2 separate regions of the Homo sapiens genome follow, and region 2 is linked to region 1. A link means that fine-mapping ties the variant in region 1 to the expression of a gene that starts in the linked region. Tissue or cell type: tibial nerve. Region 1 holds a variant in brackets; the other region holds the start of a gene. All regions are shown on one strand. Distances are from middle to middle.

What was found. PIP is the estimated chance that this variant, and not a neighbour inherited with it, causes the effect.
Region 2: it holds the start of VAPB, and the variant in region 1 is fine-mapped to the expression of VAPB in tibial nerve (GTEx, PIP above 0.99). The same link has a PIP of 0.9 or more in stomach, tibial artery and whole blood.

The regions. Positions count from the first base shown.
Region 1 is chr20:58,431,473-58,439,655 of GRCh38, reverse strand. It overlaps VAPB (VAMP associated protein B and C), which reads right to left. Exons shown (of 6, transcript NM_004738.5): 3 at 4,951-5,054; 4 at 631-711. Among named protein-coding and RNA genes, the nearest start is that of VAPB, 46 kb to the right of the region's middle. The variant G/A (reference allele first, on the strand shown) is at 4,916.
Region 2 is chr20:58,384,514-58,392,696 of GRCh38, reverse strand. It overlaps VAPB (VAMP associated protein B and C), which reads right to left and starts at 3,468. Exons shown (of 6, transcript NM_004738.5): 1 at 3,180-3,468. The coding sequence starts at 3,237. RefSeq lists silencers at 2,940-3,059, 3,320-3,759.

The DNA of each region.
Region 1 (8,183 bases):
CAATATCTGGAGACATTTTTAGTTGTCACAACTGGGAAGTACTACCAGTATCAAGAGGGCAGAAGCCAGGGATGCTGCTATTAATAAAACACCCTACAGTACACAGGGCAACCTCCACCACCACCAAGGATTTGCCCCAAATATCAACAGTGTTGAGGCTGAGAAATCCTCATCTAAAAGCAGCCTTTGATTGAAGAGGTAGATAGGGTAAAAGGGGTAGGGAGGCTGACAGGGCACTTTGTAAAACAAGAGAACTTGAAAGCTTCCCACACGTCCATCAACCACCATGATAAAGGGCAAATTGTTCCCTCTTTCACTCTCACCCACTGTTTAACAGCAACCTATACCTTTGCCAGGCCACAGAAGCTCTTCAGGATTTATGACATCTCAATGGCCATCGGGCTGCACTTTTCAAGGGGAAACACTGTCAATCAGTTGTCTTTCCGTGAGTTTTTCAAAGGCTGATTTCATAAAGGCCCACTTATTTGCTGACTTCAGCTTATTTTTTTTCTTCAGACATCAGATAAAGGAAAATAATTTGCCAACTTAAATCTTGGTTTTGCAGGAAATGGTATGCAAATAAGTATCAGCTTACAACATTCAATTATTGTTAACTATAAATATACTTACTGGTTTATCATTCTCTGCTGGCAATTCAAACACACATCTAAGTTTTGAATCCATAAGGTCTTCCGGTTTTGCCTCCTTCCACTAAAACAATTTAAATTTAATAATCAAGATATTATAAACCTGCTGGAAGAATAACTTTCTTCCTATAACTGACAATTTCAGAAAAATACTCTTAATGAGAAAGCCCTGATGTATATCAAATAAAGAACTGAAGTCTGCTGAGATTTCAATATTTGTAACATGACAAGATTAAATACACTCACTTTCTCAAAATATTACACTTCATAAACCCTGAAGTCTTGCTGCCTGACTCCTCAAAGTCAACCAATGCTCCCCATGTTGCTACTCTGTGGGACAGGCCCACCACTGAACAAAAAGGAATCCTCTAAACAATGTCTGGATGACCAGGTAACCTTGGCTCTCCTTATGAAAATAAAACTTGTTTTCAGCTGGGCATGGTGGCTTATGCCTGTAATCCCAGCACTTTGGGAGGCTGAGGTGGAGGGACTGGTTGAGCCCAGCAGTTTGAGACCAGTCTGCACAACGTAAGGAGACGTCATCTCTACAAAAAAATTAAAAAATTAGCTAAGCATGGAGGCACATGCCTGTGGTCCCAGCTACTCAGGAGGCTGAGGAGGGAGGATCACTTGGGCCCAGGAGGTGGAGGCTGCAGTGAGCCATGATCATGCCACTGTACTCCAGGCTGGGGGACACTGAGAGACTCTGTCTCAAAAATAATAAATTAAATTAAAATGAGAAAATGAAACTTATTTTAAAGGCATATCTAGAAAGTATAAGCGCATACTATCTGGGACTAGTTTCAGAACCACTCTGCCAACTACCAACGGAACACATTCATTACCAAATCCCTCCTCTGTCACTGTGGCAGTGTGTGGGCTGTGTCTACCCCAAGACCCATCTCCATCCCTCCAGGCTGTAGTGAGAGCACCTTCCTAGCTAAATCCCATGTCCTAAGAGGATACGCTCCTGATTACTTCTCCTTTTGGCAGCAGAAGATGGGAATTCCAGGGTATTCTAGGATTACAGACCAGGATAGCAGCAAGGTTATGATATAGAAAAAGAAGGCACCCCCACCCTCCATGCCCTCAACCCTTCCCAAAACCATGCAAGAGGCAGCTACTGTAACACAGGTACCAAGAACCAAAAGTGGGAAGCAATCTATACATCTGACCCTAGGGGACTGCCACAAAAATTATGGCAGATCCACTAAACGGAACAGCATGCTGCCACTCAAATGATGCTGAAGAGCACTCAGTTAGATGGAGAAAATGTCCAGAATGTTAAGTGAAAAAATCGCAAAGAATACTGAAGTCTGCTCCTCTGCACACACACACCTGTACACGTGTGCCTACCACATAAGTCAAAAAAAATATCAAGCAAGGATCATCACTGAATGCTAAAAGCACCAGGTGAAAGACTGCTGGCGAGCAGGATATTCACATGGTCTCAAAGTATCAGATGACTCAGAGTATCACAGATTACCTATTAACCACAGGGGCAAATGTGCTTTGTGCTATGACAGTGGAGAGAGCTGGCAGTCACCATCTTAACCAAGTGATCAAACAGCATCACCAACAGCGGAACAACCTGGTATGAAATACCAACTATGGAATATTCTTGCCAAAACACATTTAACTTGAATTTAATCATGAGGAAATAATCAAATAAATCCAGAATACAGGACATTCTGTAAGTCAACTGGCCTGGACTCTTAAAAAAAAAAAGAAGTTCAAAGTTTGGGCAGGGTGCAGTGGCTCACACCTGTAATCCCAGCACTTCGAGAGGCAGAGGCAGGAGGATCACTTGAGCCCAGAAGTTCAAGACCAGCCTGGGCAACATAGTGAGACCCCAACTCTATAAAAAAATAAAAAAATAGCCGGCATGGTGGCATGCCTGTAGTTTTAGTTACTCGAACAGCTGAGGTGGAGGTCAAGCCATGACTGCACCACTGCACTTCAGCCTTGGTGACAAAGCAAGACTTTGTCTCAAAAAAAAAAAAAAAAAAAAAAAAAGTTCAAAGTTTGAAAAACAAAAAGGTTTGGGTGTCCTCTACTAAAGGTCACTTTTGGAACAACTAGGAAATAATGAATATGAATTTATCACATAATAATACTGAATTGAAGTTACTTTTTTCAGCTATGATTAATAGTATCATGACTATATAAGAGACTGTCCTTGCTCTGAAGCATTTAGGGGTGAAGTGTCATAAATTTGCATCTCAAGCAAATAAGAAAGTTTGTGACAGAAAGGAAGCAAATGTCACAACATGTTAACAAATGTAAATCTAGGTAAAAGTTATATGAGTGGTCACCATGCTATTTTTTCAACTTTCTGTATATCACAATAAAAAGAAAAACATTTTAAAATAAAGAAAAAGCAGGCTGGGGCAGTGGCTCATGCCTGTAATCCTACCACTTTGGGAGGCTGAGGTGGGCAGATCGCTTGAGTCCAGGAGTTTGAGACCAGCTTGGGCAACATGGAGAAAACCTGTCTCTACAAAAAAATTAGCCAGGCATGGTGGTGCGCTCCTGTGGTCCCAGCTACTTGGGAGGCTGAGGTGGGAGGATCACTTGAGCCCAGGAGGTGGAGGCTGCAGCGAGCTGAGATCACTCCACTGCATTCCAGCCTAGGTGACACAGTAAAATCATGTCTCCAAAAAAAAAAAAAAAAAAAAAAAGGAAGAAAAACACAAAGCTCTCATTTCTCATTAATGATGGTTAGGCCTAGTAGAAAAGAACTATGGGTCACTTTAAATTTTTTTCATTTGTGTATTTCCAAAATTTCCCACAATGTACATTTTATATAAAAAAAATTTAAACTTATATCATCATACAAGGAACTAAAATGACCCTTTACTAGATATGCAGTGACTGGCCTATTACACACTCTGATAAGCAAGTGTCAGACACTGGACCCACCAGGCACTTACACAGGCACACTTCATACTCACCACTGTGTGAGCTGCATTTTTATCCCTATTTTACAAATGATCAAAACCTCAACAGAGTTAATAAAACCTGCTCCCAGCCACAACGTCAGTAAAAGGAAGAACTCAGCTCGAAAACACCCAAGCCCATGCTCTTTTCACTATGCCATGCAGCAGAAGCCAAACAGAACACACCCTTGGATCTTCCATTATTTTCTATCTGCCATGTTTCTTTGATCACACAAATTAACATGAAGTAACACATCATGTTGCAGAAAATCAGAGAAAGTTTTCATAAGAATTGTTCTTATGAAAAGAAGACAGCCTATTATCACTGATCTCTCTAAAAGTCAAAAATATCTGGCCTCCTCCTTCATTTTCTGCCTACAAGTGAAACATCAGCGGAGATGCTTCTCCAGAACTTAAACAAAAGGCTATGTGGTGACATAGGGCATGGGGTGGTCTTGGCCTGAGTTGCCCTTGGTATGAAACTCAGACAGAGGAGAACTGCAGTATGGTGTGATGAACAGCGGACTCAGGTGGGCAGACCTGCCGTGGATGACTCGGGGCTCCCCTTTGGGCGGGCCAAAACTGGAGAGCAATGCAAGTGGTATGAGGCAACCCTGTCCTGCTTTCCTGAACTGTAAGGACAAGCGCATCTGTCCCTGCTGGGGCTGTGGGTTGTATTGTAGATTTCAATTCAACTCCCAGCCCCAGAATGCCAATGGACTTATTCAAATGTATAAAAAGCTCGTTTTGGAGGGAATGTCCATTATACTCTTTTTTTTTTTTCCAAAACCATCACTAACATCACTTATTTCTTTTATAAAAATGAAGTCATCTTAATTTTATCAAAATTAGAGAAAAGTTAAACATAGATTTAAGCAGGGGGGAAAATAAATAAGCATATTTACTAGAACAAAGCCACAAACATGTATGTCTAAATGGGTGAGGACATTCAGCACTGACACTCTCACATGGCTCTTGAGTTTGTGGGGGATGAGAAGACAAGTAAGAAAAAGGCGGGACAATGAAAAGTATCCTTTTCTGTCGGGGCAGAAAGGAGAGGCGAAAGAAGGCAATCCCTAACCATGCAAGACACCATCCACCAGTGCAAGGAGCTGCTGAAGCACACTGAGCTCAGGAAAGTCAGAAAAGAACAGCCTTCTAGAAAGTCACAAAAAATGTTAAAATTATTCCTCAAAGTTTTAGAAAAACCATAAAGGTAGATAAAGTACAAACCTCCTTGAAAAAAAACTATTCCCTTTTAAATAATTTTGACATATTTTGAAATGCATGCACCCACAATTCCATATCTAATTGGTTTTTTAAATTATT[G/A]TTACTGAAAAAAATAAGAAGCATTCAGTACTTACTACTGCTTCCATATCTGAAGTGTCAGTTGGAGCAAACATAGACTGAACCATAAACTTGTGTTTACTTTTCTCATTGGGATCATAATCGAAAGGCTGTAACATCACTGAGAAAGAAAATATTTCATTAGGAGGGTCAGAGCTTGGTTGTCAGTGCCATTTATTATGCTAATACTTGTACTTTGGTTGTAAAGCAATTTACCGGCATTCTCTTATGTCTTAGGATGGACGCCCCTGGTGAAGTAAGCAAGGATGACCAACATCTCCATTTTGCAGGTCACCAACCTAAGAGCCACAAAATCACGCATGACAGAGCTGGGAATAAGGCCGAGGACCCAGTCTTCTGATTCCTAGTCCATGGATCTTTCACTACTGCAAGCCTACCGTAAATGTCTGCTACAGGCCTTACAGAATTGGGAAACTGGGTAGCAACACCATCTGCCTGTTTTGCTCAAGAAAACATATCCAAATGATCTCTTCAGGAATTAAATAGAATAATCTAAGATGTTTAAGAACATTTAAGGAACTGTTGTAGCTTCTCTCCAACCCATTTCTCATATAGCTAATCAAGGTAATCCTTGAAATACAATTTTGCCAACATAAAGCTAGAAAATTTTTACAATCAGGACACTCACACAGCAGGGAAAACGGTATCAGCTTATACTCCCCCTTTTTTTTCCCTAAGAACCTAGAGAAATCTCACACAGAGGATCCTGTGGATGAGTCACACCCACTGCATGGAGGGAGGTGCCTTCCTACCCCAAGTGGCTCCCTTCAGCCTACTTCCTAGAGTACAGCTGGGCCTACTCCTATCAAATGATGGCTGCTTTAAAATATGTTACTTTGCTACAAGGCTTTGGCTAACCCACACATCTAGTTAAGTTCCCTGAGACAACTTCACATGCAGGGAAAGCCTACTGTGGCCTTGACCACAACAGTGGGCATGGACTGAGTATCTCCATGTGCCAGAAACTGGGCTCTGTCCCTTAGGTTTACCATCATCTCATTTAATCCTTAAAAAGTAGGTACTATTGTTGGGGGAGAGGGGCTATTCTGGTGTCTACTTTTCACATGAAAAGAATGAACACAGAGAGGTGAATTTGCCCAAGGTTACACCTTGGTGGAGTGCAGACTCAAACCCAGGCAGTTGGTGTGGGGACCTAAGTTCACAGCCACCACAAAGGACTGGTGCCTTGTCCTCTGACAGTACAAGTCTTATGCTTCTCACCAGCAGGGCTTCTACCACCTTTCTGCTGGGCCCTCATCAGCATTCTCTTGCCTTGAAACCCCAACTTAGGACTTCCCAGGTGCTTCCTCTAGAGCCACACAATCAACCACAGCCAGCAGCAGATAGAAAGCAGGATAGCCGTGGTCTACAAATGAAGAATCTGGGATTCCACAAAGTGAAGTGGCTCCCTCAAAGTCACAATGTTAAGAAGTGGCAACACTGGGACAAAGAGCCAAGACTTGACTACAAGTGCAGTCTAGCACCCCTTTCACCACACTAGTCACTCCAATATGAGCTAGATTTATATCTGGCACCCAGGCCCCACGACAAAGCTAATGGAACCATTCACAAAACAGGATAGAAATACCAACCTCCCCCATCCATCTTAGGGATGCAGTAGCACTCTTCACCATGGGAACAGAGAAAGTCCACTGAGACCTAACCATGCATTGGACTTAAATGCACTGGTGTCCCTAGTCACCCAGACAGCTTCACTGCCCACAAGACCCACCTGAAGGCCCTGAGCTACAAGGAAGCCTTGCTGGGAGACTTCTTCAGGACAAAATTCAATAACTGTCAGAGAGTAAACCTTTTATCAACATAACTCTTTCTCTGGCATCACTGAGCTGGCAAGAGCTGACCTTTCCTACAGACAGACCTGGAACATTTACCGACCTGGGCTTGACACTTAACCTCAGGGACAAATGACCAGACTGGCAGGTCAATGCTTTTTCTGAAAGCCAAATTCCCAATGTGTTTTTTTCCTGCCCCTAAGATTGCAATAACGAAAACACACATTTTAAAGTAAAGAGCCAATGTCTTTACATGCTCTGTGAACCTTCCTGGACAGGGACTGTCAACCTTCTTTGGAGCTGGGATTCACTGTTAGATTAATGTTCCCTTTCTAAAATTAAAGTGAATTCAGTTTTAAGAATTTCAGGTCTTCCTTGGCTGTGACAAAATCATGCTCTGGTATTTTTCAGTTTAGGAAAGAAGAGAACTTTGACCTGAACTACTCTTAGATTTTTGGCAGGGCACAGATCTAGTAGTAAACACCGTCTTACCCTTGAGACTCTGTTCTCCCAGCTGTGAACAGCTATTGCACCACTCCCAAGTCTACCACTCTGGAGAGCTCTGAGGAGGAACAAGGTTTATTTGTAAAGATCCCTGATGCTCACATGACAGCAATCCAAGGAAAATGCTAATTTTTAGAGAAGCTATTTAGATGAAATACAAAAACCAATGGGTCCAGAGAACAGAACACACCCCCAAAAAACAGCCCCAGGAAGCTCTGCCTGCCCCTTCCCATTCATCACCTTCCTAGAGGCAGTGGGAGTAAAAAAGTACAGCCAAGAGCACTGTGTCCAGAGCTCTGCCTGGGTTCTAAGAATGCCCCAAGGGAAAACAGGTCCTTCCTTTCCATTTCTCCATCATCCCTCAGCTTCTTCATCCCCAATACTTTCATGATGGCCCAAGAAGGAAAGAAAGGAAAAGAATCTTTACTCATGCCTCCTGTGTAATAGGTACCATAGAAGGCAAATTCTCCTTAGTGCTCCCATTTACTACTCACAACAATCCATCCAAGCAGCACGTCTCCTTTTTCAAGATAAAAAGATAAGGGCTGCCAGGCATGGTGGCTCACAACTGTAACACCAGCACTTTGGGAGGCCAAGGCGGGAGGATCACTTGAGTTCAAGACCAACCTGGGCGACAAAGCAAGACCCCATCTCTACCACAAAAAAATTAGCTGGGCATGGTAGCCTATAGTCCCAGCTACTTGAGAGGCTGAGATTGAGGTGGAAGGACTGCTTAGGCCTGGGAGATGGAGGCTGCAGAGAGCTATGATAGCACCACTGAACTCCAGCCTGGGTGACAGAGCAAGACCCAGTCTCTTAAAAAAAAAGAAAAAACAAAAAAAAAAACAAACAAGATAAGGGCTCAGAAAGGCGCTAAGTGGGCTCACCTGGGTCCCATGGCCAGCGTATTAAACAAGAGTGCCAGGGCTCAA
Region 2 (8,183 bases), 47 kb after region 1:
TATTACCTTCTCAAGTAAAGTTAGCTCAGAGGTTCATCTAGGTGAACGACCAGAAATCAGAGTCGTCACCCTGAGTAACCTGGAAGAAACCAGTTAAATGTGCCATTTCTCATCCTGAAATGAATTATCTCTAAGTCAGGGTATTCAGTCTCTATTAATTGTACTGTCTTAGCATTCAGTTTAAAACAAACAAACAACACACCTCATGACGTCATTTAAGAACACACACAGATGTCTCTTCTAAAGTTATGAGCCAGAGGCCTTCAACAATTTGGTACCACTTCTCTTGGACCACTTCCCTAGCAAAAATATCCAGTGACTTTGGCATAATTACTTTGGCCAATCCAGGGCCAGAATGATCGCTATTCTCTGCCACACCTTTCAGGTACAGAAGTGATGAAACCACTTAAGTAGTTAAGTGGTTGTCTAATCTCTGTATAGTACTATGCACTTACAAAGCCACTAACAGCCATGTCATTCCTTCTAAACACGTTCTACAAGAGGCAACGTGGACACGAGCATCATCCCCATTGACCGAATAACCACCCCAGGCTTTGAGGAGTGAAGTGGCCTAAGGTCACACATCTTTCAGTAAAACAATTGAACAAAATCTTAAATTTTCTCAAATGAGTGCCTCTTTCCATAACATATTAGACAACAGAGTTTGTACTGGGATTTGGGGGTTTTCAGAAAGTTAATGCAAGGAAGGACTGCTCAAGGAGAAGCAACACAATTTTAACTTGGACACTGGCTGCATCTATGCATAAAGGGACTGAGATCTGACTCTTGTCTACTCACCAGCCTTGTCTCCCATCTTGCCAGGCAACCACAACAAATGTTCTTTGTTGCTGTCATTCAGAACCACTAGTGGTGGCCGGGCTCACGCCTGTAATCCCAGCACTTTGAGAGGCCAAGGAGGGCGGATCACTTGAGGTCCGGAGTTTGAGACCAGCCTGGCCAACATAGTGAAACACCGTCTCTACTAAAAATACAAAATTTAGCCAGGCGTAGTGGCACATGCCTGTATGTAATCCCAGCTACTCAAGAGGCTGAGGCAGGAGAATCACTTGAACCTGGGAGGCAGAGGCTGCAGTGAGATGGCGCCTCTGCACTCCAGCCTGGGTGACAGAGTGAGAACTCTATCTCAAAAAAAAAAAAACTACTAGTGGCATCCCAAAGGAGCCCAGTCATCTCAGTGTTTGTGCCTCTGTGCATGCAATTTCCTCTGTCTGAAATGTTCCCCACCCTTTCCTTCTTTGAGCCTTCTTCTACTCGACCTTTATAACTGAGCTCAAATGACACCTCTTTCAGGAGTTGACCTCCTCAATGCTCCTGGAGCACTCTGGACTACCCTACATCATTGTCCTGTCCTGGCTGTTATTCTCATCTGCCCCCTTCCCTAAAGTACTGGGAGGAGGTTGAGGGAAAATAGGAGAGTACAGCTGATATAACTTGGCTTCTCTGGGTATCTGACACACAGATCAGGTACTCAGTAAATGTTTGTGGACTAACCGAATGAACCCACCAATTATCAGGAGAAGCCAAGCCAGGCCTCCCAGATAGAGAAAGAACTTCAGACAACTCAAGTGGAAACTAAGGCTCACTATTTTCACTTTAGCTACCTGGACTTCTTTCCCAATCTGGCATCCCCAGAAGGCCATGAGAACATCATGAAAGCTCAAGTACTATCCTGGAATTACAATCCACGGTAGGTTTGGTGGGGTTTTTCGGTTTTTTCATTTTAATTGGAAAGCCTTTGGTTCTCTGTAAATTCAGAGTTATTTCACATTGTTAACTTGGAAGGCAAAGTGACAGCCACCGTTCTGGAGTATTTCCCAGCGATCAGACAGCAAAACGGTTAAGAGCGTGAACTCTGAAGTCTGGGTTCAAATGTACCATTTGCCAACTGGGTAACTTTGGGTAAGTTACCCTACACTACTTCCCAATAGGACATATAAACTGGAGAGCCTCTGGCCATTCATTCATTCATAAATACCAACTGAGCATCTACTGTGAGTCCGGTGCTAGCGATATAGTGGAGACCCGGCCTTCCAATCTAAAGTACGCTTCCATGGAGTCAGACTGTTCCATTTCCTACACAGCACTTAGCACTATCTGCAATGATCTTGTGTGTTGGTTTGTCTGTCCTCGTCGGAAGGTAAGCTCTGTGAGAGCAGAGGCCTTATCTGTCTTGTGCATCCATCACCTCCCCAGAGCCTCCCACATCACTGGATACACGCAAAAAGAAAGAATGAGCATGTCAGACAAGAACTTTTACCTCGTGGCCCTGGTGAAGGTAGGAAAAAAAAAAAAAAAACAAAAGTAACAACATAGAAAACATAAAGGCACAAATTACAGAGGTAATAGTATCTGGGAGAAACCAGGGTCATGGCTTCCCATCGCCGCAGGTGTTGCTCCAGACAGCTCTGCGGAGAAAAAGGATCCCAGCACCGTGGCAGCCTCCTTGCACCGCAACCAGGAGACAGCATGAGGGACGCAGTGAAAGGAAAATGGGCCCAATCCCATCAGAAGTCCTGAGGAGGTTCATTTGTTGGTTCAACATGTTCATCTGTTGGTTCAACAGGTATTTATTTACTAGGCGTATAATGTGTGCTGGGTACACAGCAGCGAACTGACAAGAGCCTGTCCTCATGCAGTTTCCCTTCTAGTATTGAAACAGTGATTTTGGGTATGAAAAGTGCCGTGCTGACCACGAAACAGTGACGGAATAGGGAATGACAGCAGGTGTGCACGGTGGCTGGGTGGTCACAGCAGGCCTCTCTGAGCAGCTGACACCTCAACTAAGCCCTGAGGTCAACACTGTCACGGAGCAGGGGAAGAAACTTCTAGGCAAAGGCAGCGGCGGAGGCTCACACTAGAGAGGATCACAAACTGGTAAGTTACAAAGTGACAAGTGCCTCGAAGGCAAGTCCCAGGAGGCTGGGGGTCGGGGAGGAGGCGCAGGCCCCGGCTCCCGCACCAGCCCTCTCGGGTCCCGGCCACTCCGGGCAGTTCTGGGGAGCGCGGCGAGCGCCAAGGCCCGGCCCGGCCTCGCCGCCCCCCGCGACAGCGCCGTCGGGGTGGGGACGAGGGCCGACGTCACCCGCCGCGCCGGGCTCCGTCCTTCCAGCACTGGGGCGGAGGCCGCGGGCAGGAAGGTGGCGGCCTCTGGGGCTTACCTCGGAATTTGAGCTCGTGCTGCGGCTCGAGGCTCAGGACCTGCTCCACCTTCGCCATGTTCCTTAGCGGCGGAGCACCTTTGGCGGGGAGACCCCTGAGAGGTCACCGGGGCGGGAAGCGTTAATGCTGCGCCCGCTTTAAGTTTTACAAAAAGGCGGGGACCGGTCGGGGCACGGGCGGGGGTCCTCTACCGGGTGGGCGCGCTGGGGGGGGGTCGGTCTACGCGGTGCAGGCGCAGGGGCGGAGGGCGAGGGCGAGGCCGCGGTGCCCGGCGAGCTGACGGCACGCACGCACGCACGCACGCACGCAGAGTCGTACACACGCACGCACGCAGCAGGCTGGCCCGCTCTGGCGGCGGGAAGCTGCGCCCTGCGCCGCCGGCTCCAGGGGCGGGGACTAAAGCTGCGCGCGTAGAGCCCCTTCCGGGACAGTGCGCAGGCGCGGCACAAGCCACGGGGGCGGGACTGCGGGGCAGTAAGGGGCGGGGCTTCGGGCCGCTCAGGAGGCGGGGTCTGTAGTCCAGCTACGACAGCCACCGCGGAAACTATTAAGGGCCCGCTGGGGGCCAGCTTCGTGTTAAGTGCTTTATTCAATAATAACAATTAGAATAAACTTCCACTTTTCTCTTGCTTATGTAGTGCCAGGCACTGTTAGAGACTTTGAATAATAGTGAAAGTACTTAGTATAAGTATAATGTTTATGGGTGAGTGATATGGGCTAGGCACTGTGACGTCTTGTAAATAATAATTATAAATATAATAAACTACCAATTATTGCTTATTTATTTTGTATCACTCTACTGAATGCTTCCAATAACAACAGCAACTACAATAAATACAAGCTACTCTACGTTAAATGTTTACTATGCAACTGGCACTGTGCTGAATTCTTTACTAGTAAATTCTATTTGTTTATGCAACAAATATTTAGAAATACAATGATCAGAAAAGCGAACCTGATTCCAATCCTTTTACTATAGCCTAGTGAAGAGACATCTTTTGAATAAATAACCACACACGTAAGTTAAATAATTAAAAATTGCTGGAGAATCCAGATCTGCTTGACCTCAAAAGTGGATACTCTACATCATGATTACCGTTTAAATTGTATTTCATTATATTATGTTTACTATGGAAGTTAAATAGGTGTTCTTAATAGTCTCCTATACATACCCATATAGGTGAGACAAATGTGGCAAATTGCTAGCAATGGCTGACTCTACATCGCAGGTATATGGTTTTCTTGTACTGTTTCTCCCACTTTGCTGTATACTTGAAATTTTTCATGATAAAAAGGTTTTTTAAAAGAATAGTCTTTGTATTTTAACTGGAGCATTTAGTCCATTTACATTTATTATATTTACTGATATATCTGGAATTATTTCTACCATTGTATTTTGTTATTTCTATTTGTCCTGCCTGGTTTTTTTCCCCTTTCCTTTCTTCTTTAGGGTTTATTTTTATTCTCATTCTGATTTTCTTCACCTGTATACTCTATTTCTAAGTTTTAGTGGTTACTTCAAACTTTTGGGCATGCATACTTACCTTGTGAAAGTCCAATATCTTTAAATATTTGTAAAAATGTCTTTACCCTGTTTCCTTAAAATATAAAGACTTTGGAGTACTTTAATCACCCATCCTCTAAATTATACACCTTAATGTAGTGTATGTTAAGTTTAACCTTTGCCACTGTAACCCCAAGAGACATTACTAAATTGTTTTATTCAGTCAACATTAGTTTAGATTCAGCCACACAATTACCATTTTTATCCACCTTTTCTTCTTGCATCTCAGCTTTCACCAACAGGATCACTCTCCTTTTGCCTGAGGTAAATCCTTTAAATTTTATTTTTTTGTAGCTTCGTTGGTGCAAATCCTCTCAGTTTCTGCTCATCTGCAAATGGATTCATTTTTGCCTTTTGTTGTTTTTATTTTATTTATTTATTTATTTGGAGATGAGGTCTTGCTCTGTTGCCCATGCTGGAGTGCAGTGGCATGATCGTGGCTCACTGCAACCTGTATCTCCCAGGCTGAAACAATCCTCCCACCTCAGACTCCGGTGTAGCTGGGACTAAAAGCATGCACCACCACGCCCAGCTAATTTTTTTATTTTCTGTAAAATCTCACTATGTTGCCCAGGCTGGTTTCAAACTCCTGGGCTCAAGTGATCCTCCTGCTTCAGCCGCCAAAGTGCTAGGATTACAGGCATGAGCCACTGCGCCTGGCCTTGCCCTTGTTCTTGACAGATATTTTGGCTTGCTTGCTTGAATGACAGCTGTCCTCTCTCAGCACACTTGATTGCCATCCACTGTTTGCCTGTTCCCCCTCATTGCTCCTCAGGAGTCCAGTGACAATCTTAACATCGTTCCTTCATAGGTTGTTGGTCTTTTCTCCCTCTTCTCATGTTCTACAGTTTTACCATGCTGTATCTTTTTTTTTTTTTTTTTTTGAGACGGAGTCTCGCTCTGTCCCCCAGTCTGGAGTGCAGTGACGCCATCTCAGCTCACTGCAACCTCCGCCTCCCATGTTCAAGCGATTCTCCTGCCTCAGCCTCCTGAGTCGCTGGGATTACAGGCACGCACCACCATGCCCAGCTAATTTTTGTGTTTTCAGTAGAGACAGAGTTTTGCCATGTTGGCCAGATGGTCTCAAACTCCTGACCTCAGGTAATCCACCCACCTCGACCTCCCAAAAAGTTGGGATTACAGGCGTGAGCCACCATGCCCAGCTCATGCTGTTATCTTTTTATTTATCCTGCCTTGAGTTCTTTGGGCTTTCTGAATTTGATGATTGGTGTCTTTCATTATTCTTGAAAACTCTCAGACAATACTTTTTTTTTTTCAATTTAATTTTACTTTTTTATTGTGGTAAGATACACATCACATAAAATTTACTCTCTATCATTTTTAAGTATCCAGTGGTATTAACAAGATTCCTATTGTGGTGCGACCTCACCATCATCCATCTCTAGAGCTCCCTTCATCTTGCAAAACTAGAACTCTGTACCCCTTAAGCAATCATTCCCCATGCTCCCTCTCCTAAGCCCCTGGCAACCATCATTCCACATCCTGCCTCTGTGAATTTGACTAGTCTAGGTACTTTTTGTAAGCAGAATCATACAATACTTGTCGTTTTGTGACTGGCTTATTTTGCCCAGCATAAAGTCCCCAAAGTTCATCCGTGTTGTATCATACGTGACAATATCTCTGTTAAATGTTATCTTGGATGGACACAGTGGTTCATGCCTGTAGTCTCAGCAATTTAGGAGGTCAAGGCGGGCAGACTGCTTGAATCCAGGAGTTCAAGACCAGCTTGGGCAACATGGTAAAACCCCATCTCCACAAAAAATACAAAAAAAAAAAAAAAAAAATTAGCCACGCATGGTGGTGCATGCCTGTAATCCCAGTTACTCAGGAGGCTGAGGTGGGAGGACTTGAGCCCAGGAGGTGGAGGCTGCAGTGAACCATTATACCATTGCACTCCAGCCTGGGGTAACAGAGTGAGATCCTGTCTCAAAAAAAGAAGAAATAAAAATAAATGTTATCTCAACCTCGTTCTCTCACTCTTTACATCTTGTAGTGTGATTAGTAGTTATTCAACTAATATTTTTCAAACTGTAGGTTGTTTTCCAACAGTGGCTTATAAAATCAATGTAGTAGATTGTTACCAGTGTTGAGAAAGAACGAGAATATAATATATTGGAGTGTATTGTATTATTTCATGAATCTTTTGTTTCAGTTGTATTTATTAATATACACATATCTATGGAGTGAGTCACAACTAAAATACATTTATTACTGTGGATTGTGAAAGAAAAAGAGAAAAGTCTTGTGCCCTTCTCCATGTCTATTAACCTCTCTATCACATCTTAATCTGTCCTCTTTATGTTCCACGTTCTGGATAGTTCTTCAGATCTTTCTTCTAGTCACTAATTATCTCTTAGGCTATTGATAAACCTGTTTCAGGAGTTTTTCATTTTGTTTATTTTTTTTTAAGCCTATAAGTTCTATTTTGTTCTTTTACATATCCAAGTAGTTATAGGTTGTGTTTTTTCTTTTTTTTTAATTATTATTTGAGACAAGGTCTCCCTCTGTTGCCCAGGCTGGAGTTTAGTGGTGTAATGTTGGCTCACTGCAGCCTCTACCTCATGGGCTCAAGCCATCCTCCCACCTCAGCCTCCCGAGTAGCTGAAACTACAGGTAGGCACCACCACACCCGGCTAATGTTTGAAAGTTTTGTAGAGATGGGATTTCACCACATTACCCAGGCTGGTCTCGAGCTCCTGAGTTTATGCAATCCGCTCGTCTCAGCCTCCCAAAGTGCTGAGATTAATGGCATGAGCCACTGTGCCTGGCCACATTTATAGGTTTTTTAACACTGGTTCCCAGCTCCTCTGCCCTCCCCCAGGGAATGGTGCCATAACAAAGCTTTAGTGTTGGTCTCTTCTGCCGGGTCACTTTGGTAAGGGGAAGCCCATGTTCCTAAGCCCATACAGAGCCTCCACACCTGCCACCATGGCCACTGCATAAATAAGCTCATTGAGCACGCAATGGCACAGCTGTGGGAAAGACTGACTGTTGTCTGCAGAATGTGCCCTCTTGTCCACTCAATTAATAGAGTTGCTGCTGCAGTAGATGTCTTTGAGTGGGCATTCACATGAGACACCAGTGTCTTTTTTTTTTTAATTTAGAGGCGGAGTCTTGCTCTGTTGCCCAGGCTGGAGTGCAGTGGCACGAACTCGGCTCACTGCAACCTCCACCTCCTGGGTTCAAGCAATTCTCCTGCCTCAGCCTCCCAAGTAGCTGGGATTACAGACGCCCACCACCACGCCCGGCTATTTTTTGTATTTTTAGTAGAGACGGGGTTTTACCATGTTGGCCAGGATGGTCTCGAACTCCTGACCTCATGATTCACCCGCCTTGGCCTCCCAAAGTGCTGGGATTACAGGCATGAGCCACAGCGCTTGGCCGAGACACCAGTGTCTTCACACCCATCCTGAGAGGT